Homo sapiens: one gene and its partners. The protein of the gene in region 1 purifies or fractionates together with the protein of each later gene. This does not show direct contact. Each region holds a gene or a part of one and is shown on either strand. Other genes may lie near its edges. The genes, in order: HSPBP1, EDRF1, ELF2 and NT5C2.

Evidence for each region.
Region 2: the proteins of HSPBP1 (region 1) and EDRF1 purify together in Homo sapiens (affinity purification with mass spectrometry; 5 studies listed by BioGRID and IntAct, with this or other methods). This does not show direct contact.
Region 3: the proteins of HSPBP1 (region 1) and ELF2 purify together in Homo sapiens (affinity purification with mass spectrometry; 3 studies listed by BioGRID and IntAct, with this or other methods). This does not show direct contact.
Region 4: the proteins of HSPBP1 (region 1) and NT5C2 purify together in Homo sapiens (affinity purification with mass spectrometry; 4 studies listed by BioGRID and IntAct, with this or other methods). This does not show direct contact.

What each region holds. Positions count from the first base shown.
Region 1 is NC_000019.10:55,277,078-55,283,926, reverse strand, and holds the start of HSPBP1 (hsp70-binding protein 1), read left to right. Parts: upstream 1-3,816; 5' UTR 3,817-3,892; exon of another isoform or gene 3,893-3,997; intron 3,998-4,070; exon of another isoform or gene 4,071-4,180; coding exon of another isoform or gene 4,181-4,318; coding exon 4,319-4,528; intron 4,529-6,080; coding exon 6,081-6,285; intron 6,286-6,849. UniProt on the Homo sapiens protein: Inhibits HSPA1A chaperone activity by changing the conformation of the ATP-binding domain of HSPA1A and interfering with ATP binding. Interferes with ubiquitination mediated by STUB1 and inhibits chaperone-assisted degradation of immature CFTR.
Region 2 is NC_000010.11:125,722,697-125,729,729, forward strand, and holds part of EDRF1 (erythroid differentiation-related factor 1), read left to right. Parts: intron 1-371; coding exon 372-438; intron 439-1,114; coding exon 1,115-1,240; intron 1,241-2,621; coding exon 2,622-2,746; intron 2,747-2,985; coding exon 2,986-3,142; intron 3,143-6,306; coding exon 6,307-6,408; intron 6,409-6,661; coding exon 6,662-6,783; intron 6,784-7,033. UniProt on the Homo sapiens protein: Transcription factor involved in erythroid differentiation. Involved in transcriptional activation of the globin gene.
Region 3 is NC_000004.12:139,167,204-139,174,236, forward strand, and holds part of ELF2 (ETS-related transcription factor Elf-2), read right to left. Parts: intron 1,654-7,033; exon of another isoform or gene 1,564-1,653; intron 840-1,563; exon of another isoform or gene 699-839; intron 1-698. UniProt on the Homo sapiens protein: Isoform 1 transcriptionally activates the LYN and BLK promoters and acts synergistically with RUNX1 to transactivate the BLK promoter. Isoform 2 may function in repression of RUNX1-mediated transactivation.
Region 4 is NC_000010.11:103,087,532-103,092,299, forward strand, and holds the end of NT5C2 (cytosolic purine 5'-nucleotidase), read right to left. Parts: intron 4,085-4,768; coding exon 4,033-4,084; intron 3,466-4,032; coding exon 3,405-3,465; intron 3,257-3,404; coding exon 3,080-3,256; intron 2,692-3,079; exon of another isoform or gene 2,378-2,691; coding exon 2,141-2,377; 3' UTR 507-2,140; downstream 1-506. UniProt on the Homo sapiens protein: Broad specificity cytosolic 5'-nucleotidase that catalyzes the dephosphorylation of 6-hydroxypurine nucleoside 5'-monophosphates.

The DNA of each region.
Region 1 (6,849 bases):
CGGGCCTCCAGCTGGAGGGATGGAGAGGAGGTGGGAGGATGCAGGAGAGAGGATGGAGGGAAGGATGGAGAGAGAGAGAGAGGACCCAACAGATGGGGCAGAGATGGAGATACACAAAGAGAGATGCTGGCTGACACAGAGACGGGAGACAGGCAGAGACGCCAGAGGGATGGAGACCACCAGAGACAGGCTGAGGCAGAGAGGGAGGAAGGGCAGAGATGGACAGGGACAGAAGAGAAGGAAGGAATGGCAAGCCGGGAAAACAGACAGGGAGAGGGAGAGAAAGCTGCTGGAAGCCGACAGAGGGATGGAGAGAGTCAGAGATTCAGAGAGACAGAGAGAGGAAGACCAACCAGAGAGGTGGGGGAGAGGGGGCGCAGATGGAGCTGTAGAGAGGGCCGGGGGTACACACAGGTGGAGGGACACGTGCTGGGGAGAGGTGGGGACATATGGAGGGAGACAGAGACAGAGAGGGGAAAGAATTCTTGGAGTTGCTGACCCAAAATTCATGTCTGTTTCCCCAGCCCCCTAAGGCCACCCATTCAGGGTAAGGGTAAGTCTGTGTCCCCACCAATGTCAAGGCCCCATATCTACCCACAGCCCAGAGTGATTTTGGATTCTCTTTACAGAGAAGCTTCCAGAACCCCCTCAGTTTCCCTGTGTTATGTTTTTAGACCCCCATATATTCTCTGTGCTCGTCATAGGGTCCTTTATATCTTCATGTGGACCCCAGTACAGCCCATACATCCCCACTGTAGCAGGTCCACAAGCATGTGCTCTGCCTGTGAGTAACCCGCCTGCCCCCATTAGCTTTCCGCATAAACCATAGATCCCTCTATGTCATGTACCCGCAAGTGTTAGACACCCATTTAATTCTCAAGTCCCCTGTAAAGCACACCCAGGGCTGGGCAAGGTGGCTCATGCCTGTAATCCCAATACTTTGGGAGACAGAGGTGGGAAGATCAGCCTGGGCAACACAGTGAGACCCCATCCCTACAAAAATTTTTTTAAAAATTAGCCGGGCATGGTGGCATGTGCCTGTAGTCCCAGCTACTTGGGAGGCTGAGGCTTGAGTCAGTGAGTTCTAGGCTGCAGTGAGCTACGTTTGCACCACTGCACTCCAGCCTGAGCAACAGAGTGAGGCCCTGTCTCTAACAAAAATAAAATAAAATAAAGTGCACACAGGAGCCTATTGGCTCCTGTGAGATTTCCCAGTCCCCCATTCAACACCTTGAGTCCACACATCTTTAATGAGTGCCAAATCTCAGCCAGGCACTGTTCCTGTTGGTAAGAACGTGGCAGTGACCTAAATCAGCAAAAAGGCCTGTCCTGTGGAGCTTCCATGCTGGTGGATGAAACAGATGATCAGCAAGGTCAATAGGCAAAATGTATGGTGTGTTAGATAATCATGTCCGTGCTGAGGAGGTGACTACAGCAGGGAAGGGGGTTAAGAGGGGCCTGTTGAGCAGGGTACAATTTTAGGCGTCCGGCTTTTTTTGTATTTTTAGTAGAGATGGAGTTTCACCCTGTTAGCCAGGCTGGTTCTGTAGCCTTTTTTTTTTTTTTTTTTTTTTTTTTTTTTTTTTTTTGAGACGGAATCTTGCTCTGTCTCCCAGGCTGGAGTGCAGTGGCACAATCTCAGCTCACTACAACCTCCACATCCTGGGTTCAAGCGATTCTCCTGCCTCAGCCTCCCGAGTAGCTGGGATTATAGGCACCCGCCACCATGCCTGGCTAATTTTTGTATTTTTAGTAGAGATGGGGTTTCACCATGTTGGTCAGGCTGGTCTCAAACTCCTGACCTTGTGATTTGCCCACCTCAGCTTCCCAAAGTGCTGGGATTACAGGCGTGAGCTACCACACCTGGCCTGGTTCTGTAACTATTGAGTCCCTTTTTGCTCTCAAATGTCTTGCTATAGATGAAAAATTATATGATCACCCTCTTTTTTTTGTTTTGTTTTGTTTTTTGAGACAGGGTCTTCCCCCTGTTGCCTAGGCTGGGGTGCAGTAGGGCAGTCATAGTTCCCTGCAGCCTCGACCTCCTGGGCTCAAGTGATCCTCCTGCCTCAGCCTCCTGCCTAGCTGTGATATAAGCAGATGCCATCACACATGGCTAATTCTTGTATTTTTTTGTAGGGCTGGGGACACACTATGTTGCCCAGGCTGGTCTCGAGCTCTTGGGTTCAAGTGATCCTCCCACCTTGGCCTCCCAAAGTACTGAGATTATAGACCTGAGCCACTGCCCCCGGCCATGTATTATAAACTGATAGACTTGTACATAGATGTCCGTGTCCTAATTCCCAGGATCTGTGCATAAGTTACCTTGCATGGCTGAAGGGACTTTGCCCATGTGACTGAGATAGGGAGATTATCCCAGTTATTTGGGTGAGCTCGATGGAATCACAAGAGTATTTGTGAGAAGGAGGCAGGAGGAGCAGTCAGTGATGGAGATGGGAAGGTGGAAGCAGAACTTGGGGTGATGGGGCCACCTGTCAAAGAAAGAGTGTGGCCTCTAGAAGCTGGAAAAGGCAAGAAAAACATTCTCCCCGAGAGCCTCCAGAAGTGATGCAATCCTGCTGACAGTTTGATTTCAGCCCCGTGAAACCCATTTTGGATTTCTGCCCTCCATAACTGCAAGATAATAAATGTGTGCTGTTTTAAGCCACCACATTCTTAGTAATTTGTTAACAGCAGCAATAGGAAACTAATATAATAGCACATCCACAGGCCCAGATGCATCTCACAGCACAGTGCTAGAAACACCACACACACACACACACACACACACACACACACATACACACACAACCTATCTGTTTGGTCTTCCTGTTTCTGCCCAAAATATCCCCCTGCACAACCACGCCCAGCAGGTGATTGATACGTTTGTGACTGTGTGCCCGTTTTGCGTTGAGCACAACCTTTTCCTGGAGGAAAACGCCTCCTATCCAGGATCAACACGGGAGTTTCTTTAAGCCCAGCCCAGGGCCAACACCTCTGCAGATCGGCCCGCACCAGCACGTGCCCAGGCCTAAACCCCACTTCTGGAGCACAGAGGCCTCGGGCCTCCCCACCAAGCTGGCTCCTCTGGCGCTCTGAATCTTGCTGGGCTCTGGGGCACTTTGCTTTCCGGCTCTAGGCCTCAAGAATCCTCTCCTCTCCACCTGGCAGGACATGGGGAAGAGTCCATGAGGGAGAGGCTGGGTGATGAGAGGGATCCACGCCGCAGCTCCACTTGACAGATGGAGAAACTGAGGCCGAGAGAGGGGTTGCGGGGGGCATAAGGCTCACAGGCCAGCCATTACGGTTGCGACCCCAGGGCTCCTGTAGATGGGGTTGGTGGCCCCGGTGGAGGCGAAAGTCAGATTAGTTGGGGCGAGGTCCCAAACCTTCTAAGGATGACTGACAGCAATGAGTGGGAGGGGCCTGTAAAGGGGCCGGGGCCCAACTGGGAGAGTCTGAAAGGCCTAGAGCAGGGGCGGGAATCGTAGGGTGGGCGGGGTCAGACCTGGGGGCGGGGCACACGTTAGAAGAGGGGTGGAGCTTGCAAAAGTATCGGGGGCGGGACTCGCTGAGGTGCGAAAACTGGGCCAGGGGCAGGGCTTTGACCAGCTACTTGAGCGTGAAGGGGCGGCGCCCGCACGAAGGGGCGTCCCAGCTTGGAGGCGGGGCCCGGATGGGAGGGGCGGGGCCGAGTGCAGTATCCCGCCAGGTGAGAAGGGGATAAGAGTCGGGCAAGCAGCTTCAGCCGCAACCACGGCACGAAGTTGGGTGGGTACGCCTGGCACTTCCGGGTGAAACCGTGCGTATTTCCGGTTAAGATGGCGGCGCCCAGCAGAGTCAGGTGCGGACGACTTTGTCTGTAGGAGCAGCGGCGGCTTGAGGACCCGGGGAGGTGAGATCCGCCTTATTCCGGCGCCCCTCTTCGGAGAGGAGGGAGAAGACTTGTTGCTAAGGAGACCAAAGGGCGGGCTTGTTGCTACGGAGGCGGAGCAGTGAGGTTGCTAAGAGACGGGACGCACGCAGTGGAGATGGGGAAGGGGGGTTGTTGCCAGGGAGAGTGGGTGGGGCCTGTTGCTAGGGAGAAAGGAGAGGCTTATGACTTTGGGGAAGGGTCCTGTGGGTATGAAGGAAGGAAAAGGGGCTGTGGTTAAGTGGGCTGGGGGCAGAGTGGTTTGGGGTCATGGGGGGTCGCCGAGCTCCCCTGAAACGCCGCCTTCTCAGCAGACCCTCAAGAATCGACCCATCAGGACGCCAGAGCTGCTTCAGCGGTGACCACCTTCTCCCTCTAACACATTCTTCCCTTCTTCACAAACGGCCCATGTCAGACGAAGGCTCAAGGGGGAGCCGCCTGCCCCTGGCGCTGCCCCCGGCCTCCCAGGGTTGCTCTTCAGGGGGCGGCGGCGGCGGCTCCTCGGCTGGGGGCTCGGGCAATTCCCGGCCCCCACGCAACCTCCAAGGCTTGCTGCAGATGGCCATCACCGCGGGCTCTGAAGAGCCAGACCCTCCTCCAGAACCGATGAGTGAGGAGGTAAAGGATGGGGACCCAAGAAGCTGGGGTGAGGGGCCTGGGGACAGATAGAGTTGCCTTGGGAAGTGTGACTTGGGGAGCCACAAGAAGACTAGGGTCTTCTTGGGTGGGAGGCAGAAAACCAGGTGTGGAGGCATTGTGGGCTATAAATTGTGCTAGATGGGGTTATCGTTGACTGAAGGTCAGATCTCAAGAGAGTCTGAGGGGACATATCCTCTCCAGAGCCAGACTAACCTGGATTCAGCATTTCCAGCTGTGTGACCTTGGGTATATTACTTCATCTTTCTGAATCTCAAGTTCTTCATTTACAAATTGATAATAATAATAACTACCGTATAGGGTAGTTCTGAGGTTCTACTTTAAGTAGGGCTGCACACAGTGCCCAGCATACAGACAGTGCTTCTGAAGGCAGCAGTGTGTTTTCATGAAGAGCACAGGCTCTGTAGTCAGACTGCTGTTTTTTTTTTTTTTTTTTGGTGGGGGCAGGGTTGGGGGTGGAGGACACAGTCTCGGCTGGAGTGCAGAGGCGCAGTCTTGGCTCACTGCAACCTCTGACTTCCCGGTTCAAGCAATTCTCATGCCTCAGCGTCCCCAGTAGCTGGGATTAGAGGCATGGGCCACCATGCCTGGCTAATTTTCGTATTTTTAGTAGAGAAGGGGTTTCACTACATTGGCCAGGCTGGTCTCGAACTCCTGGCGTCAAGTGATCCACCTGCCTCGGCCTCCCAAAGTGCTGAGATTACAGATGTGAGCCAGCACGCCCAGCCTAGACTGCTTGGGTTTGATTTCAGGCTTTGCCAATTGCTGACTGTGTGACCTTGGGTAAGTCTCAACCTTTCTGTGACTCAACTTTCTCATCTGCGAAGTGGGGATAACAATGATATATACCTCATAGAGTTGTTTTGCAGATTCATAGCGATAGCTATTATATATAATGTTTAATCGACAATTACTGTATACAGAGCATTATGCTAACCCACTTACATATATGATATCATTGAACCTTTACAACAGTGAGGCATGAAACAGGCACAGAAACATTAAATAGCTCACTCAAATTTACTTAGAACTGTGACTAAGGAGACCTCTGCTCCCCTCCCTCACCCCCAAAAATTCCAGCAGTCACGTATTAGCTCTCATCTCCTTTTTCTTTGAGATAGTCTCACTGTGTTGCCCAGGCTGGAGTGCAGTGGCCTGATCTTGGCTCACTGCAACCTCTGTCTCTCAGGTTCAAGCGATTCCCTTTGCTGCAGCCTCCCGAGTAGCTGGGATTACAGGCTCACGCCACCAGGCCTGGCTAATTTTTGTATTTTTAGTAGAGACGGGGTTTCACCATGTTGCCCAGGCTGGTCTCAAACTCCTGAGCTCAGGCAGTCTACCCACCTCGGCCTCCCAAAGTGCTGGGATTACAGGGATGAGCCACAGCTCCCAGCCGATATTTGTTGACTGAAGGAACATCAGCCCTCAGTTGTTGGCTGTCTTTATTAATGGCTGTTCCTTTGTAATGAATGACTGATGGATCTCCTTCTTTCCTCCTCGCCTTGGTCTCCAGAGGCGTCAGTGGCTGCAGGAGGCCATGTCGGCTGCCTTCCGAGGCCAGCGGGAGGAGGTGGAGCAGATGAAGAGCTGCCTCCGAGTGCTGTCACAGCCCATGCCCCCCACTGCTGGGGAGGCCGAGCAGGCGGCCGACCAGCAAGAGCGAGAGGGGGCCCTGGAGCTGCTGGCCGACCTGTGTGAGAACATGGACAATGCCGCAGGTACCCCGCTTCCCCCGCCAGGACGTTCTGCCCCTCTGTACATGTCCTGCTGCCTCTCAGCTCTTGCCCCTACTCTTGGGGCTCACACCGTCAGCCTCCCTGCTGCCTTCTCACCATCAGCCTGTTCGCCTCCATTGCCATAAGGAGCAAGGCTCTGCCTCACCCTCATGGCAGGTGGAGTCCCCCACTTCCCTGATCAGCTCTGAGATGGCTGTTTCTCTCCTAGTCCTCTGGGTGTCCACTGCCACTCCCCAGAGTACAAGAGGGAAAGTGGCATGGGTGGGGTGGCAGAGAAGGCCTCCCCGGGGTGACGTTTGATCAGAGACCTGAAGTGAGGTGAGAGTTGTGGGATGATCTCTGGGAAAAGCATTCCAGACAGTAGGAACAGCCAGTGCAAAGGCCCTGAGGCCAGAGTGTGCCTGGTGTGTTCAGGAACAGCAGCCAGGCCCTTGAGGCAGAGTAGAGTGAGTGAGGGGCCAGGCGCAGGAAACAGCGCTGGGGTGGGCCTCGCAGATGGGGAGGTAAATGCTGTTTTACTCCAAGCAGCAGAGCTCACAGAAGGTT
Region 2 (7,033 bases), on another chromosome or scaffold:
TTTTCTTATCTCTCCACCTAAAAAGAATAAAGTTTTGAACTATTTTCCCTTGGAGACTTTGAGTTTTGTGATTACAAAAATAAAGAATAATTGTTTTTATTCTAAATATTTCCTACTGGATGCTTCTAATGATTATTACCATGTTTTATCAAATCTAAGATGCCATTGACTTTAAGACACACCATTATTTTAGTACCACTAAGAAAAAAAAACTTGCCAACTGTGATGGTGATACACATCCTGGTTTCAGAGTTGTTAAAATGTGGAAAATGTGTATCCTAGAAGCAATGAGCTACAGTATTGTTATTAAGCTCTACTTGCATGATTATGAGCATGACCTCATAACCTGTGTCCTTTTTTCTCTTTGGTAGCTTTGGCATGGCATATGACTTTATTGATTCAGTGGGAAATGATGTGGATGTTGTCTCTGACTCTGAAGTAAGTGTTATTTGTCGCTTAATGTAATTTTGGAGGTGTTTTGTGATAGGTGTTTTATATCATGCTGTGTTTTGCATAATATAAATGTGCAAGTCTTGAGAAATTAGTGATGAAATAAGATAAAACTTACCTGATTATTGAGTATCTTTTTTGTTGTTAAAGTATCATTGTTTACCACATTTGTATTTAAAGAGGAAGGAATAATCAATCCCCAAACACTGGCAGTGGTAATAATATATTGATGGTTATATTTTAATGATAGTAATTGAAACTGATAATAGTGTTTGGGATTATTCTGTATATGTTACCAGTTGAGTTACAAATGATATTTCTAGTAAAATCTATTGGATCCTTAGTGGCTTTGATCTGATATGCTAAAAGCCTGGGTCAGCATAACAGTGTGACGTATACACCCTTAACTTTAAGAAATCCTATCATGTAAAAATAAATGTTTGACTGTCACTAACATAATGTGACTCATAAAGTGTACGTGATTCTGGTTTGAAAGCTCCGTCCTCTGTGTGTTTGCATGTAGCTTTTTGTTTAAAGTTCTATTTGTATAACCTTAAGGAAATAAGGTTTATTATGCTTTAAAATGAATGAAGCTAAAATTTAAAAGATTCCAAATCACACTAAAACAGTCTTTCTAAACTATTTTTTCTCTTAATTTTTTAAGAACATAAAAAAACTCCTGAAAATTCCCTACAGCAAGTCGCACGTGAGCATGGCAGTACACCGCATAGGAAGGACTCTCTTACTAGATGAGCTAGATATTCAAGAACTCTTTATGAGATCGTCTCAGGTAATGCTTTTGTGAAAAAATCCAACAAAACATTAACAGCTTAAGAGCACTAGAAATACGATTTTGTTTCAGAGAATGGCCAAAGTGGAAATGTAGTTGAGTACTTCAACAATCGAGAAATTGAAAGTTTCACTGAAGATAGAAAAGCTTGAATGAAGAAAAAAGAAGAGAATGAGAATGGTGAAGAAAATTATTTTATTGATTCCAACAGCCAGATTCTTTTTTACAAGAAAAAAGATGAAGCCAATGAAGAAAGTTGTGAAAAAAACTGTGAAATTTAAGGGACTAGTTTAATATTTTTAAGAATCCTTTAACGTCTCCCTTAAACAGATTCTCAGGAAACACAGCTACTGGAAAATGTGAAAAATATTAGAAGCTGTTCCTATGAATAAATACAGTCATGTTCCCATAATGACGTTTCAGTCAGCGATGGACTGCATATACCGGTGGTCCCATAAGATTATAATATACTGTATTTTTACTGTATTTGCAGTGTTCAGATACACAAATACTTCAGTCACATGTACAGATTTGTAGCCTGGGAGCAATAGGCTATACCGTATGACCTAGGTAGGGAGTAGGCTGTACCATCCAGGTTTCTATAAGTAACACTCTGCGATGTTCACACCAGGACAAAATCACCTAATGACGCGCTTCTCAGAATATATCCCCATTGTTAAATGACACATGGCTGTAGTTATTAGAATTAATTGATGCTCTTTAGCCTAGATTCTCAAATTGTATGTTGGTAAGGACTGTTTTTCCCACATGTTGAGAATGGATACTTTTGAAAAACATAATAACATTGTTGCAGTTTCTCAAGAACTACCCTCCATATCTGTACTTTTCTTGGGCTGGCAAGAAATAGTTCATGGTCAGTCTTTAAAGAATATTACTACAGTGCTTTGATAAAGAAAATTAAATTATGGTGAGGTAAATGACATTTAAAATAAGTGCTTTTTTCCTTTGAAAAGACCACCGTTTAGTTCATCATGTGAGTATGAGCCTAGGCACGGGGATGTGACAGTGAACAAATCACAGGCCTTGCTCCTCAGCAGTTCATTGTTTGGGGTTATAAACACATACACAGATCATTTCAATATAGTGTGCAAAGTGGGAACTACTGCAGCTGCTAAGGAACATGTTATAGAGAAGACTCACCTCTCCCAGCCTGGCTTAGGAGGAGGAAGACGGGTTTCCTTTAGGAAACAAAAAACAAAAGAAAGGTGGTATGAATTGACCCAGAAAGATATGTTTTTAATGAGTATGTGTTTATGAAACTATTCAAAAAATAATAGGAGCCTTTTCTGTAAGCTAGTACTAGGTAACATTGTTTCGACTATGTGTGTTGTATTAATAATATGTATCTCATGTTATCCAGACTGGTGACTGGACATGGTTGAAAGAGTTTTATCAAAGACTCATTGATCAGAAGTGGCAGAGGAAGAAAAAGAGCAAAGAGCACTGGTATCAAAAGGCAATTCTTTCCAAGTTTTTATATTACAGGTACTTGGCTACTTATTTATCTCTAAAGAGAAAAAGGGAATTCTGATCTAAAATTTAGTGTGAAGCTTAATGAAGTTATAATTTAAGTTTTGCCCCTGTGATACTGTTAACATTTGTTTCATATTTCTTTTTTACAAGATGTATGCTTAATTACAGATTGTAGTTTTTATAAACGGGTAGACTGTTGCATGAAGTTAACTTTAGTAACAGCAATCCTTTTTTATTTCTGGTTTGGCCAGTATCAATGGTGATGGAGCCGCTCAGCCTGTCTCATCCACCGCAGAACAGCAGGAATCGTCCAGTTCAGATCAGACAAATGATTCGGAAGGGGCTTCATGGCCTGCTCCCTTCGAAATGCCTTCTTCAGTTTCTGAAGATCCCAGTGCTTCCAGTCAGGTTAGTACTTAAATGCTAATTCTAGAAACTCACATAGGAAAACAAAGCCTTTTTTAACATCTCGTTAAAAAAAAAAAAAGATGAACAGGACTAAGAAATATTCTGTCAGCTTATGGAATGGGGGAAAAAAGACTTCTGTCAATTTATGGAATTGGAGAAATACTTTTTAGTTTTTCGCAATAGAATTTACAAGAGCTATTATAGGTGGGGAGATCAGATTTTTTTATTAAATCGAAATATAATAGTTGACTGATATGTTTATTAATACTGATTATCTCCTTCAAGTGATGAGTATTATATAGAGATATAGTATATTTTAATTATAAATACTAGTCATTTTTAACTATAAATACTATTTTAACTATAAATATCTGTCAATATTTGATAGACATTTCCTACCAAATATTGAGACTCAGAGACCCATTTGTAATTTAAGTTCTAACCTTTTTACCATAACTTTCAGTCAGATTGTTAGACCTAAAATATCCCTTTAAGGTTTTCCAGATAAAATTCCTGAAACTTAGTCCACATTCATGTTATAAAAGTTTTAGAAAAGAGAATGAACTAGGTTGTCCATTTTATCTCTTACATCCTTGTTTCTTCCTAATGCTTGTTTATTTTTGTACTTACTGTATCTATCAAAGAATAAAATAAAGCCATAGATGTAAATTGTGACATGTCTATTTTCAGGAAAATAGATTGATAAATAGATAATAAGATCTGTGACTTGATAAGTTACGTCTTCCCTCTTGCTGTTGTGTTCCCACATATTGAGCACTATTCAACCAGATTGTTTCAATCTTCACAAATTACAGGGAGCAGATACATTTAACTCGATTTTAGTTTCAGTAGGTTTAAGATAGAGAAAGCATCCCATAAAACTCCATAATGAATTTAAATTTCTTTCAAAAGTGAGAAAAATGTAAGGAAAAGGAAGTAATTAATATGCAAGTCACATAGTGGTAACAACCAAGAAGTAGGGATGTTCTATGATTCAGAAGGGAGAAAAGACTACATAATACAAATACTACCCTCCTATTACCCATGTCACCCATCTCCCAGTGTTGTTCTGTCTTTACCTTGTTTAGGAATTACTGTGAAAACTCTTGGAGAGTCGGGAATCTGTAGACTTGCGTGTTGAGGAAGCAAGCTGGCATTTACTGAATAGCTCTTATGCCATGTGTATGTTTGTACAAGGTTTTTTTTTTCATTCTTGGAGCTGCGTATTGTACAAATAAGTAAACTAACGCTCATCAAAAGATGTTTCACATGGTCATACAGCTGGCGAAACTCTCAGGCTAGGGCTTAAACCCAGATCTTTCTGCCTGCAGAGGCCTGTTCCTCCAGCAGTACTCCACTGTGTCCGTGTACTCCACACACAGCAAGGCCCTACTAACAGTCAGATCATCGTAGTAGTGGTGTATCCCTAGGCACAGCTAGCCTGCCTTAAGAGTCTCTTACAGAGTACTTTTCTTATATTGCTTAAATTTCAGCTTTAGAGATTTGTTTATATTTGCAAGCTATCTCTGCACAAATTCTTGTTCCAAAAACTAAAACTGCTGGCTTGAGGCCTTTGTTAAGCAGTTATAGAGGTTAAATAGGTGACTGTGGGATGGTCCTAGAGCCAGACATTTATTGAGAACGTTGTAACCTAGAGCTCATACTCTGACTAAAGCAACTGCCTGGCAAACTGTTTTGAGAATCGGTTCATGAGTTGATAACTTGTCTGTGTAAACAAATAATAAAATAAAAAAGAGTTTAAAGTTCTCTTAGGACTCCTGAGGGAGAGGACAAGGCACAATAGAAGTGCTAGAGAGCCACCTGTGCTTATAGTCACACACTCTTCCCAAGCAGGTGCCAAGCCTACTGGCACACACAGATGACAAGTAAGACAGATGTTTGTGGAATAAGCAACACACGCATGCCTGTCTTGGGTTCTGTTGAGGCAATGACATTAAAAGCTTAAAGTAGTATTTCTTAATGGCAGTACTACTTTCCTAATGATTGGAAAATTGAGTGGTAGGCTGAGTTTACCCAGTGTCAAGAGGGCCCAAGTGTATTCCAAAATGCATTCCAGGCTGGGCGCAGTGGCTTATGCCTGTAATCCCAGCACTTTGGGAGGCCGAGGTGGGTGGATCACTTGAGGCCCGGAGTTAGAGACCAGCCTGGCCAACATGGCGAAACCCCATCTCTATTTAAAAAAAGAAAAAAAAATTAGCCGGGCATGGTGGCACGTGCCTGTAATCCCAGCTACTCGGGAGGCTGAGGTAGGAGAATTGCTTGAACCCAGGAGGCGGAGGTTGCAGTGAGCTGAGATCATGTCACTGCACTCTGGCCTGGGCAACTCTGTCTCAAAAAAAAAAAAAAAAGTATTCCAGAGAATATCTTAAGAACAAAAAGTGTTCTGAGATTAAATACATTTGGGAAACATTGGTTTTTACAAAGATAAAGTAGATTTTTCTATTGCAGGATTACTTATTATATATTTATTGTTTTAATATCAATAAATATTGTTACTCCACAAAAGTGAGTACCTGGTAAACGTCATCTTTCAAACCTGACTCTGGAAAATTTTCATTCAGTTTCCCAGGAACTAGTGTTCTGTGAAACACTCATCAGGAAATGCTAAACTGGAGACTGTTAAGATAATGAGTATCTCAAACTGTGGCTGAGTAAGATTTCTTAGGGTTTCTTTTTTTTAAGAGACAGACTCTCATTATGTTGTCCAGGCTGGATTCGAACTCCTGGGCTCAAGCAGTTCTCCCCTGTCGACCTCCCACATAGCTTGGACTACAAGCACATGCCATCGTGCCTGGCCAGTTTCTTAGGAATTTTTAAATTCAATATAGATAGAGTAGGCTGAAAGAGCAGTGGTAATCAGATGCACCAAAAAAGAGAAAAATGAAAAACTTAGAAAGTTTAGAATAATCTTTAATCTATCTCTCTTGAGTAAGATCTAAATGTGATTCGCTTCTTATAGTAGCTATGATCATTAGCCAAAGCAAGCCACCCAATGAGGCGTGTTATTATTTGTATTGGCCTAATAATTCACAATGGTAGATTTGAAGTGTGTGCTTTGAATATTTAGGTGATACTCTCAAAAGTGGGTCAATTTTAAGAAATGTTGACAGCAGAATCACTCCTTATCCTTGCACTTTTCACAGGGAAGTGAGCCTCTTGAACCCTCATACATAGTGGGGCATGTGGCCTCAGCCCCCAAAGAACAAAACCTGATTACTTTATTCAATGACGGGGAGCACAGTCAGGTATGCTTTCCATGGTGTCCAAGGTGACAGCAAATCCCCAGTCTACTTTGTCATTTCAAAACTAGCCTAAGTCGAAATTGATAGGGAAAAACTCCACTTGATCCTGAAACTGCTTTCTAAGCATCTTTGTGATCTTAGCTCTGGGGCCTGACTTTGTCTTCTTTGTCTCTTCCTTTTTCTAGTCTTTTTATGGATCATGGGGGGAAATTACAGATTGACTGTTTATTATAATCCTCCCTATTTTAAATCACAGGGTCTTAAAAATGATTTTGTTCGGAATATTCTATGGACATTTGAAGATATCCATATGTTGGTCGGCTCCAACATGCCCATATTTGGAGGAGGCAGATACCCAGCAGTCAGCTTACGTCTCAGGTGAACTAACATCATACCCCTCCTCAAGCTTATGGTATTTAAATTCTTCCTTTAGAATCAGTGTTCCATCAGACTGAGGTTGCAGTGAGCCAAGATCATGCTACCGCACTCCAGCCTAGGCGAAAGAGCAAGACTCGTCTCAAAAAAGAATCAGTGTTCCATCTATTTGGGCATCTTCCTCTTTCTCTAGGTTTTTTCCCCTCCCTCCTTCCCCTGCCAGTTGAAATGGCCACATTAAGGAAGGAGCTAC
Region 3 (7,033 bases), on another chromosome or scaffold:
AACGTTAGTTATATTACCAAGACTTTGACTGGAATATCTTATTTAAGAATGTGCACACAATGTCTGGGTTCAGGTGTTCCCATTCCTACAGTGAGAGAATATAATCTGTCACTTCTTGGCCAGCCCAGGAACCTTAAGGCTGTAGGTGAAATCTAATGTCTCCCTTGGTTTGGCTTCCTAGTCTTGAAGGGTTTATAAATCTGAGATTTCTTTGTGGTCAACAGCTATTCTTGCTGCATTTATGTAAATAATCAGACAAAAAACTAATAAAACTATTTTATAAACAAATTTGTCTTATTCTGATTGGTAGAAACTGGGATGACTATAAAAAGTTATGCTTCTAAAGAAAAACTACTGTATCTATTATTAGACTGTAGCCCTGTACACTGTATTTGAGTTTTTATTATCTACCTGCAAACTGGCCTAGATCCTAAATTCTTCTAGGTTCCTCCAATCCAACTTTCTTCCACAGAATTATTAAAACAGAAATTGCTCTGTTCCTGAAGCCCTATAAGCTGAAACTCGATGAATTTTAAGGGACAAGTCTGGTACTCGAAGTCTGAGCCACACAGAAAAGTTCACCAAACTGCCCAATGCCTTAACCAGAGACATTCAAACTGCAAACCAGGATGAGAAGTCGATGGTTCCGCACTGTAGACAGGTTTTCCCAAGATAATTGAACAAGGGGAGACTCTTACCCCTCTTAAGGCGTAGCTTTTTCACTTGGCAAGATAATGTTGTAACTGAAATTTCACAATCAGTAGCTTCTGCTGGTAACTTGACAGAACTTGACCTAAGAGATCCTTCAGTCCACCTAGTGGGTGACTCTGGCAACATCCCTAAAAAAATTATTCACACTCTGCTTTAATTCAACCCAGTTATGGAATGCCGAATGATAACAATGCTCTGCATTAGCTATTGGTTAAGTAAAGAAATGTCTGTGCTATTACTAATACTACATGATTTACCTGGATAAATTCCTTTGAGGAAGTTGAGACTCATACGCAAAATAAGAAAACAGATCACATGGTTACAACAGGTCTCATCTAGTTCTCCATGGTCACTTGGTTTCTTCAACTGACTGCCTTTAGGTCTAGCTTCATGGCTCAAAACCATTATGTAAACTGGTATTATATTACTATTAATTTTACTTTGTATTTTCCTTTTTAAACTTTGTACATGTTATTTGTTACATTTCTGTAGTAGTACAGAATTATACTGACCCAACAGAATTATACTGGGCTGGCCCTAAACCCTGAGATGATAGCCTACATTTAAGGAACAGACAAAAACTGATCTTAATAATGGATTCCCGGCAGACTTAGCCTGAGAATCACTCCCTCCAAACTTCCCTTGTGTGCTCAAATGTGACTGAAAGGGTCCTGACACTGACTCCTAGTTTGACAAGCACTCCCTCCAACATGGGACCATACCAACAACCCAGGACAGGTCCATCCTGGCACCTAAAGATAATTAAAACCTAACTACAAGATGATTGATCAGTGATGCTTCCAAAGAAAGATCCCTTTTGTTTTATTTGTTTTTTTAGAGACAGGGTCTCACCATGTTGCCCAGGTGGGTCTCAAACTCCTGGGCTCAAGCAATCCTCCTGCCTCTGCCTCCCAAAGCGCCAGGATTACAGGCATGAGCCACTGTGCCTGGGTCCAAAGAAAGATTTTGATCAAAAGGGGGAAAAGTGAAAGTTGTTAGAATTAAAATTGAGTCATTTGTGTTAAAAGCCCTGACAAATGGAGCCAGGGAAGGCCATGAAAGGAGGGTTCTCATGCATGAATACCTGATTAAAAAAAAATAACTATTGCCCGGGCATGGTGGCTCACGCCAGTAATCCCAGCACTTTGGGAGGCCGAGACAGGCAGATCACGCTTGTAATCCCAGCACTTTGGGAGGCCAGGGCAGGCAGATCACTTGAGGTCAGGAGTTTAAGACCAACCTGGCCAAAATGGTGAAACCCCATTCCTACTAAAAATACAAAAATTAGCCAGGCATGGTGGCGCAGGCCTGTAGTCCCAGGTACGTGGAAAGTTGAGGCAGGAGAATCACTTGAACCCGGGAGGCAGAGGTTGCGGCAAGCCGAGATCGCACCACTGCACTCCAACCTGGGCTACAGAGCGGGACTACATTTAAAAAAAAAAAAAAAAAAAACTATCACAAAAAAACTCATAAAGGCCACAACCCTGCACAAAGGCAACTGCAACCTTACACAAAAAAATACTTCTGCAAGGACATCTGCCCAGTAACTTCATGTCCAACCTCAGACTGGCATCACTCTTGTCACTGATCTTTATAGCCAAACATAATTGATTTAAAACAATGATGTAATCTTCCTCATTTTTCCTTTAAAAATCTGTCTTGGCCGGGCGCGGTGGCTCATGCCTGTAATCCCAGCACTTTGGGAGGCCCAGGTGGGAGGATCACGAGGTCAGGAGATCGAGACCATCCTGGCTAACACGGTGAAACCCTGTCTCTACTAAAAATACAAAAAATTAGCTGGGCATGGTGGCGGGCGCCTATAGTCCCAGCTACTCGGGAGGCTGAGGCAGGAGAATGGCGTGAACCCGGGAGGCGGAGCTTGCCATAAACTGAGATCTCGCCACTGCACTCCAGCCTGCGCGACAGAGCGAGACTCTTGTCTTAAAAAAAAAAAAAAAAAAAGCTATGTCTTCCTTTACCTCCCTGAATATGCACATAGTTTACTACGGTATGCATATTCCCATTATAATGCCCATTCCTGAATAAATACTGCTTTCTTTCAGAGGGACTGTCTTTTACTTAGGTTGACAGAACCATCTGTATGTAAAAGATGAATTTAGAACCTTATTTCTCACCATACACAGAAATTAATTCAAAATAGATGATAAAATCTAACTGTTAGAGTTAAAACTATAAAACTTCTAGAAAGCAGAAAAATCTCAAGATCTTGGATTAGGCAGAGTTCTTACATAAGACAACAAAAGTATAATCTATAAAAGAAAAAATTTAGAAACCACACTTCATCAAAATTTAAACTAATTACACTTTAAAAGATCTTAATCGCCTTTTTTTTTTTTTTTTTTTTTTTGAGACAGAGTCTCGCTCTGTTGCCCAGGCTGGAGTGCAGTGGTGCGATCTCGGCTCACTGCAATCTCTGCCTCCCGGGTTCAAGCGATTCTCTGTCTCAGCCTCCTAAGTAGCTGGGGCTACAGGTGCACACCACCACACCCGGCTAATTTTTGTATTTTTAGTAGAGATGGGGTTTCACCATGTTGGCCAGGCTGGTCTCGAATGCCTGACCTCATGATCCACCAGCCTCAGTGTCCCAAAGTGCTGGGATTACAGGTGTGAGCCACCACGCCCAGCCACCAATTTTTTAAGCAATGAAAAGACCAGCAACAGACTGTAAAGAAATATTGGCAGATCATGTATCTACTAAAAAACTTACATCCAGAATATATTTCTAAAAAAAAAAACTTCTTATAACTCAATAAGTCAAACAACCCAATTATATTACATTACATTATATTATATTATATTATATTAATTATATTATATTATATTTTTTTGAGACAGAGCCTTGCTCTGTTGCCCAGGCTGCAGTGCAGTGTTGCAATCTCAGCTCACTGCAACCTCCGCCTCCCAGGTTTATGCAGTTCTCCTACCTCAGCCTTCTGAGTAGCTGAGATTACAGGCATGCGCCACCACCTCCGGCTAATTTTTGTATTTTTAGTAGAGACAGGGTTTTACCATGCTGACCAGGCTGGTCTCGAACTCCTGACCTCAGGTGATCCACCCACCTCAGCCTCCCAAAGTGCTGGGGTTACAGGCATGAGCCACCGCACCCAGCCCAAACAACCCAATTTTAAAAGGAGCAAAAGATCTGAATAGTGATGTCATCAAAAAAGATGGGTCAGACACGGTGGCTCATGCTTGTAATCCCAGCACTTTGGCAGGCCAACGCAGGAGGATTGCTTGAGCCCAGGGGTTCAAGAGTAGCCTGGGCAATGCAGTGAGACCCCCATCGCTACAAAAAATAAAAATAAAAAATTAACCGGGCATGGTGGTATGCACCTGCATTCCCCATTCCCAACTACTCAGGAGGCTGAGGTAGGGGGACTGCTTGAGCCCAGGAGGTCAAGGCTACAGTGAGCTCTGGTCGCACCACTGCACTCCAGCCAGCCCATTTATGCCAAGTGTTCCATTTTTGGAATGCTAAGCTTGTGGGAATTATTAATATCCTACTGCTCAAGGTCATCGCCAAGGTCTGCTTTTTCACAAAAAAAAATTGCAACTTCGGGCATAAATGGGTTAAGAAAAAAGATACATGAAAAGATGCTCAATACTATGAGTCATAAGGAAAATTAAAATTAAAATCACAATGACTCCACTAAACAGTACACAGAGAAAAAAACAAAAAAAAAAACACAACAAATTAACAAAATCAGGCCGGGCATGGTGGCTCACGCCTGTAATCCTAGCACTTTGGGAGGCCAAGGCAGGAGGACTGCCTGAGCTCAGGATTCGAGACCAGCCTGGGCAACATGGTGAAACCCCGTCTCCACTAAAAAGACAAAAAATCAGCTGGGCATAGTTGTGCTCGGCTGTAATCCCAGCTACTCGGGAGGCTGAGGCAGAAGAATTGCTTGAACCCAGGAGAGAGAGGTTGCAGTGAGCTGAGATTGCACTACTGCACTCCAGCCTGGGCGACAGAGTGACTCAAAAACAAACAAATTCATATCCATTAGAACAGCTATAATTAAAAAAGAAATACAATAATAAGTGTTGGCAAAGATGTGAAGAAAACTAGAACTCTCAAACATTGCTGTTAGCAATATAAGACGTTATGGCCACTTTGGGAAAACAGTTTGGCAGTGTCCTAAAAAGCTAAACGTATGATGCTGTAATTCTACTCCTAGATAGCTAACCAAGAGAAACAAAACCATATGTCCACATAAAGACTTGTACTCAAATGTTTGAGTATTATTTAAAGAGTCAACAACTGGAAATAATCGAAACACCTATATATACTGGTCAACAGCTAAAGTGTGTTACAGTAATCTCCCCTTACCTACAGCTTTACTTTGCAGTTTCAGTTACCCACAGTCAAACATGGTCTGAAAATGATAAATGGAAAATTTCAGAAATAATCTACGTTTTAAATTGAGTGCCATTCTGAGCAGCATGATGAAACCTCATACCATGCCCCTCTGCCTCGGCCATGAATCATCCCTTTATCCACCATATTCACGCTGTCTACACTACCTGCTCATTAGTCACTTAGTGGCCATCTCAGCTATCAGATCAACTAGTATCTTAGTGCTAGTAACCCTTATTTTACTTAACAATGGCTCAAACACTCAAGAGTAATGAGGATGACAACTGGATATGCCAAAAAGAAGCTGTAAAATACTTATTTTAAGTGAAAAAGTGAAAGTTCTCAATTTAACAAGAAAAAAACTTTATGCTGTTTGCTAACACCTACAGTAAGAAATCTTCTATGAAATTGTGAATAGCATATTGTTGTAACTATTCTATTGTATTGTTTTTAATCTCTTATTATGTCTGATTAACAAGTTAAACTTTATCCTAGGTATACAGATACAGAAAAAAATAATATATGGTTCAATACTACCTGAGATTTCAGGCATCCACTGGGGGTCTTGGAATGTATCCCACACAGATAACGGGGGGGGGGGGGGGGGGGGGGGCTATCATATACCTATACAAAGAAATACTATTCCAAAGTAAAAAGGGACAAAAAACTGATAAACGCTACAATATGAATGAATCCCAAAAACATTATGCTAAGTGAAAGAAGCCAGATACAAAAGACTACATATTGTACAATTCCACTTATACAAAATATCCAGTAAAAGCAAATGGATTAAGACAAAACCAATCAGTGATTGCCTGAGGCTGGGGGTGGGAATAAGGGTTAACTGCAAACAGGCTGGAGGGAATTTTGGAGGCAATGGAAATGTTCGAAAACTAGCTCAAGGTGATAGATAGTTTCACGATCTATATATTTACTAAAAATTATTGAATTATATACTCAAAATGGATAATTTTTTTGGTATCAGGTAAGTCAAAAGCTAATTTATTAAAAAGTGTACATACCCAAAGAAATGACAACACATCTACACAAAAACATGAATATTCATAGCAGCATAATAGCCCAAAAAAATAGAAACTTAAATGTCCATCAACTGATGCACAGATAAATAAAATGTAATATGTCCATAAATAGAATATTACTCATCAATAAAAAAAATGATTACAGGGTGGGTGCAGTGGCTCACACCTGTAATCCCAGCACTTTGGGAGGCCGAGGCAGGCGGATCATGAGGTCAGGAGATCAAGACCATCCTGGCTAACACAGTGAAATCCCATCTCTACTAAAAATACAAAAAATTAGCCGGGCGTGGTGGCACGCGCCCGTAGTCCCAGCTACTTGGGAGGCTGAGGCAAGAGAATCGCTTGAACCCGAGAGGCGGAGGTTGCAATGAGCTGAGATCGTGCCACTGCACTCCAGCCTGGGCAACACAGCGAGACTCCGTCTCAAAAAAAAAAAAAAAAAAAGACTATAAAAAATTTTTTTAATTAAAAAGGATCAGGTGCAGTGGCTCAAGCCTGAAATCCCAGCACTTTGAGAGGCCAAAGAGAGAGGATTGCTCAAGCCCAGGAGTTCAAGACTACCCTGGGTAATATGGTGAAACCCCATCTCTATAAAAAAGAAAATAGATTAGCCGGACGCGGTGGCTCACCCCTGTAATCCCAGCACTTTGGGAGGCCAAGGCGGGCGGATCACGAGGTCAGGAGATCGAGACCATCCTGGCTAACACGGTGAAACCCCATCTCTACTAAAAATACAAAAAAAAAAAAAAAATTAGCCAGGTGTTGTGGCATGCGCCTGTGGCAGGAGAATCGCTTGAACCGGGTGGCAGAGGTTGCAGTGAGCCAGATCACACCACTGCACTCCAGCCTAGGCGACAGAGCGAGACTCCATCTTAAAAAAAAAAAAAAAAGAAAGAAAGAAAAT
Region 4 (4,768 bases), on another chromosome or scaffold:
TAAATTAAAGCAAAGCAATCATGTGGTCCTTACTCTAAAAGAGACAATATGTAAATGTACTATTATAATAAGGTAGCTCTGCAGATGTAATAAGCTACTCATAAATTATTTGGGTTTAAGAAAACTTAAGACTATGTTAAACTGGACAACATCTCCATCTTGAGTGAGAGTAATTAGTAACTAGGATGACCACACATTCTCCTAACACGGGCAACAGTCTAGTCTAATTGTTATTGCATTTCTGACCTGATTCTTTTAAAGGGGCATATATTCCCAATATATACCATTTAGAATGTATGTATGTTTCTTGGATGACTTAATCTGAAGCCATATAAGTCCAAAGTAGTGAGACAGACAGTATATCCTTGACTAAGTTATCAGGCTGTGTTCTCTGCTTATAAAATAATTTTTTAAAAAGCCTCACTTCACAGTCCTGTTCCAAAAATCTTTCTGTGAAAAAATTGAGGCCTATGTAACACCATGAATATAATCATGTTAGAACATAATCAGTTCTTGAATATTTATTTCCTTTAAGAGAATATCAAACTGATGTCACCAAATCTAAACCCACTTGAAGACCAATAGCTATTACAGTTGTACTACAGAATAGGTCAAAGTCACCGTTAGAAATATTACACTTTATTGAATTCTGGAGCAGCTAATCTACCCTCCCCTATTGACCAATGACAAGAATGGAAGAAAATATACAATGGTTAAAGAAAGAGTCTATAACCACTGTTTGTTTAAAATGTTGAAACAACTTTCACTGTACTGGTGAAACAGTTTTAATACCCTAACATACACAGTAATGATTCATTCTTGTTTAAAACAAGAGGTGATTTCGACTTGGGATTGGGATTTTTATTTTTTGAGATGGAGTTTTGTTCTTGTTGCCCAGGCTGGAGTGCAATGGCACAATCCTGGCTCACTGCAACCTCCGCCTCCTGGGTTCAAGCAATTCTCCTGCCTCAGCCTCCTGAGTAGATGATGGGATTACAGGCATGCACCACCACGCCCAGGTAATTTTGTATTTTTAGTAGAGATGGGGTTTCTCCATGTTGGTAAGGCTGGTCTCGAACTCCCGACCTCAGGTGATCCGCCTGTCTCGGCCTCCCAAAGTGCTGGGATTACAGGCGTGAGCCGCCGTGCCTGGCCTTGACTTGAGATTCTGAAGTGAATTTATTCACACTGATTGTGCCCTCTACTTTAGTAAGGTTCTGGCTTACAGAGCCCTCTTCCCATCCTCTGATGTTCAATTTTAATATACAGCAATCAACTCTTAGAGGACAAAGAAATCTGGAATTGGGTAGCATGAGCCACAGCTATATAGCCCACACTAATGCATGTTCTGTAGTATAAGAAGGCAGTTCTTCCCTTTCTTTTCTGGGGGCTTGTTCCTTTGTCCACTTGCAGCTAAATTCTTTCTATAGATTTATCACAGATAAGAAGGAGGTTGTTTTTGGATAACAAATAAGCATTTGTGCTATTAAACAAACAAAAGGTAATAAGGATACTGTCTTTTCCCTCAAAATAGAATCCTGCCCTAAAGCAACGCAAGTAGAGCATACTTCTGTGCAAAGCCAGTGATAGAGAAGCAGCCTTGCCAGAGTCACTGAGGATGAATTAAAGGCTTATAAAAGAAAACTTGACCTTAACAGAGACTACATTTGATCATGGAAATAATACATTTCTCCACTGATATACAATACCATGTAATGCACTGGAAAAGTTGGACCTTGGAGTAATAGCACAATTTGTAACATTACAGATCACCTCTTCCCACTCTTTGTTCCACTCTGAGACTCTTTCCTTTTCCTCGTGTATCCAGATACACTGACATACGGATGATTTTAAAAGTGTCACAAGCCACAGTGGAGCCATATACATGCAGTTCAGCCTGATTTTACCCTTATTTTCTTCTAATACAGACTCCATTACAATTTTGGACCATCTGCAGAGAGTACAGATACACAAAACCAAAACAAGTATCTATGATAATAAAATCTTCAGAAACTTTTCAGACGTACCTTTCATGGAGCCCCCTCCCTCCCCCGAGTAGAACCCTAACAGGGACCTCGTTTGTTCCTGTGAGTCCTGCCAGGACTTGTTTAATGGGTGCTTGGGGTTTTGGTTTTCCTCCTTATTCTTCCTCCTCCTCCTCCTCTTCATCATCATCTTCGTCATGGCAGTGTGTAATTTCCTGGGGGGCCAGTGGGAAGAGGTTGGGAGGTTTAATCTCACTAATTGACCGTGTCAGCTGGTGCCGCTTGTAGTCAGTGTCTTTGAAATCCACTGATGTGCGGTTCCGGGTGGCAAGAGGAGACTCCATCTCATTGATATCTACGTGTGTGTGCTCCACCGTTGATTCATGAGGCATCTAGACAGAAAAAAGCTAGAGGCTCAGAAAGCAGGCAGAGCAAAGTAGCTACTCCCCAAATCCTAACCCCTCTCCTCTGTTAGGTGGCCATGCAATTACATCTATAATGGACCACAGGACAAGTCAATATAGACTTATCTTCATAGAACTACTTATAGTTGCCTGTCTTCCTCTCTCCCTGCCCCTCAAAATGGTGCCCATATTGTCTACTGCAGCTGGAAATTGGAAAAGATGGAGAGGGGAGTTTACTTTCTATTTTACAGCAAAAACAAGATAGTCCTGAAACAGATCAGAATAAAGGAATGTAAAAACCACATTTTCTTTTTCTTGAGATGGTCTCTCGCTGTCACCCAGGCTGGAGTACAGTGGAGCAATCACAGCCCACTGCAGCCTCGACTTCCTGGGCTCAATCAATCCTCCCACCTCAGCCTCTAAAGTTCTGGGGTTACAGGCATGAGCCACCATGCCTGGCCCACATACAGCTTTTAATAGAGTAGACTTCAGAGAGTAAAGTTACACTCTTAACTTCCAATGTTGGTTCTACTTTCTCAAAGACCCCTTCTTATGCAACCATATAACCTGCCCCTGGGCTCTGTACATCAGAAAGAAATGTTCAAACTATCTCCTGTGCCATCTCACAAAGGTGGTTGCTGACCCTGGGCTTAGAGTACATCTTGGCTGTCCATTACAGCTTTAACTCACCAAGACATGGGCAGCCCTGAAGAGGTAGCTGAAAGGGTAATACAGCAGGTTGATGAAAGATGCTGCATAGAGGTCAGCATAACGCATCACTTGACTGGCAAAAAGGGTCTGCCGGGAGCCACTGCGAAACAGGCTTCCCATCATCCCATAGCACATGTCCATGTCATGAGTTACTTTCTAAAACAAAGAACAAGATTGATTCTTGGCTCATTCAACAAATATTTATTGAGCAGTAGTTGAATGCTAGTCTCTATAATAAATCAGGAATGTGAAAAAAGCATTTAAACTTATTTCCCAAGTTTTCTCCCAAATCCCATTTGGATACCTTAATACGTCTCTGGATGGAACTGATGTCTGGACGCTCATTGCTACTGCTGTCAAGATGCCTAAAGATAAAAGAAAAACTCAGTGAAAATCTCTGGGAAGAGCTTTTTTTTATTCTTTAAGACAGTCTCATTCTGTCACTCAGGCTGGAGTGCAGGGGTGTGATCGCGGCTCACTGCAACCTCTGCCTCCCAGCTTCAAGCGATTCTCCTGCCTCAGCCACCCTAATTAGCTGGGATTACAGGCATGTGCCACCACACTCAGCTACTTTTTGTATTTCTGGTAGAGATGGGGTTTCGTTTGCCATGTTGGTCAGGCTGGTCTCAAACTTCTGGCCTCAAGCAACCCGCCTGCCTTGGCCTCCCAAAGTGCTGGGATTACAGGCATGAGCCACTGCGCCTGGCCTGGAAAGAACTTTTTTTTTTTTTGAGACGGAGTTTCACTCTTGTCGCCCAGGCTGGAGTGCAATGGTGCAATCTCAGCTCACTGCAACCTCCATTTCCCCGGTTCAAACGATTCTCCTGCCTCAGCCTCCCAAATAGCTGGGATTACTGGCCTGGAAAGAACATTTCTTATATCTAAGTGATTCCTGAGTAAGTTTTTGGGAAAGAAATTTTTAGAAAACTTACTTGTAGAGTTCAGCCAAGAAAATATCCAAGCTCTGAAGTTCTTCGAAAAGTGCTAGTTAAGGTTTGGAAGGAAAAGGAAGACATTTTAAATAAATAAGCACCTAGTTCTTAACTGCTGCTAAACTAAAAGGTTGCAGATGTGACTGGAAAGTAGAACCTGGGACTAACATGCTGAGTGTACAGTTACCTCCTCTTCCCCTCTTCAGGATAACTCACTGATACCTGCTTGGAGTCTGACAACAGATGAACACCATCACCTTCTCTTTAACTGCCTTTCCTCCTGCTTAAACACCATGATGACAACTTTCCCTTCCAGCTGCACGCTCATTCTGAGCTTGTAAAGTACCAGAATTTACATGCTGTCTCAGGTGCAGTCAGCTAAGCAAATGTTAACAGTCCCATTTTCAGATGAAAGATTGAGAATCAGGTGACTTTTCCTGAGTCACAGGTCCAGGGCCAAATCAACTAGATTTCTAAAACTTCATAGGTAGAAAGTTGAAAATGTGAATGAAAGGCTAGCCAGAAAATCCCACTGATAGTACAGACAGTAACAGCAACAGCCAGCATCTACAGCATGCTGCCGGTGTGTTGCAGCCTTTGTCAGTCTGGGTTCCTCAAGACAAGCCCTCCTTCATCTACTGTATGTAACACATTTTCTTCTATCTACCATCTTTAGGAGAATTGAGAAAAGTGTTACTCAAATAATTTTCTGTATTCAGCTCCATTGGAAAGGTAA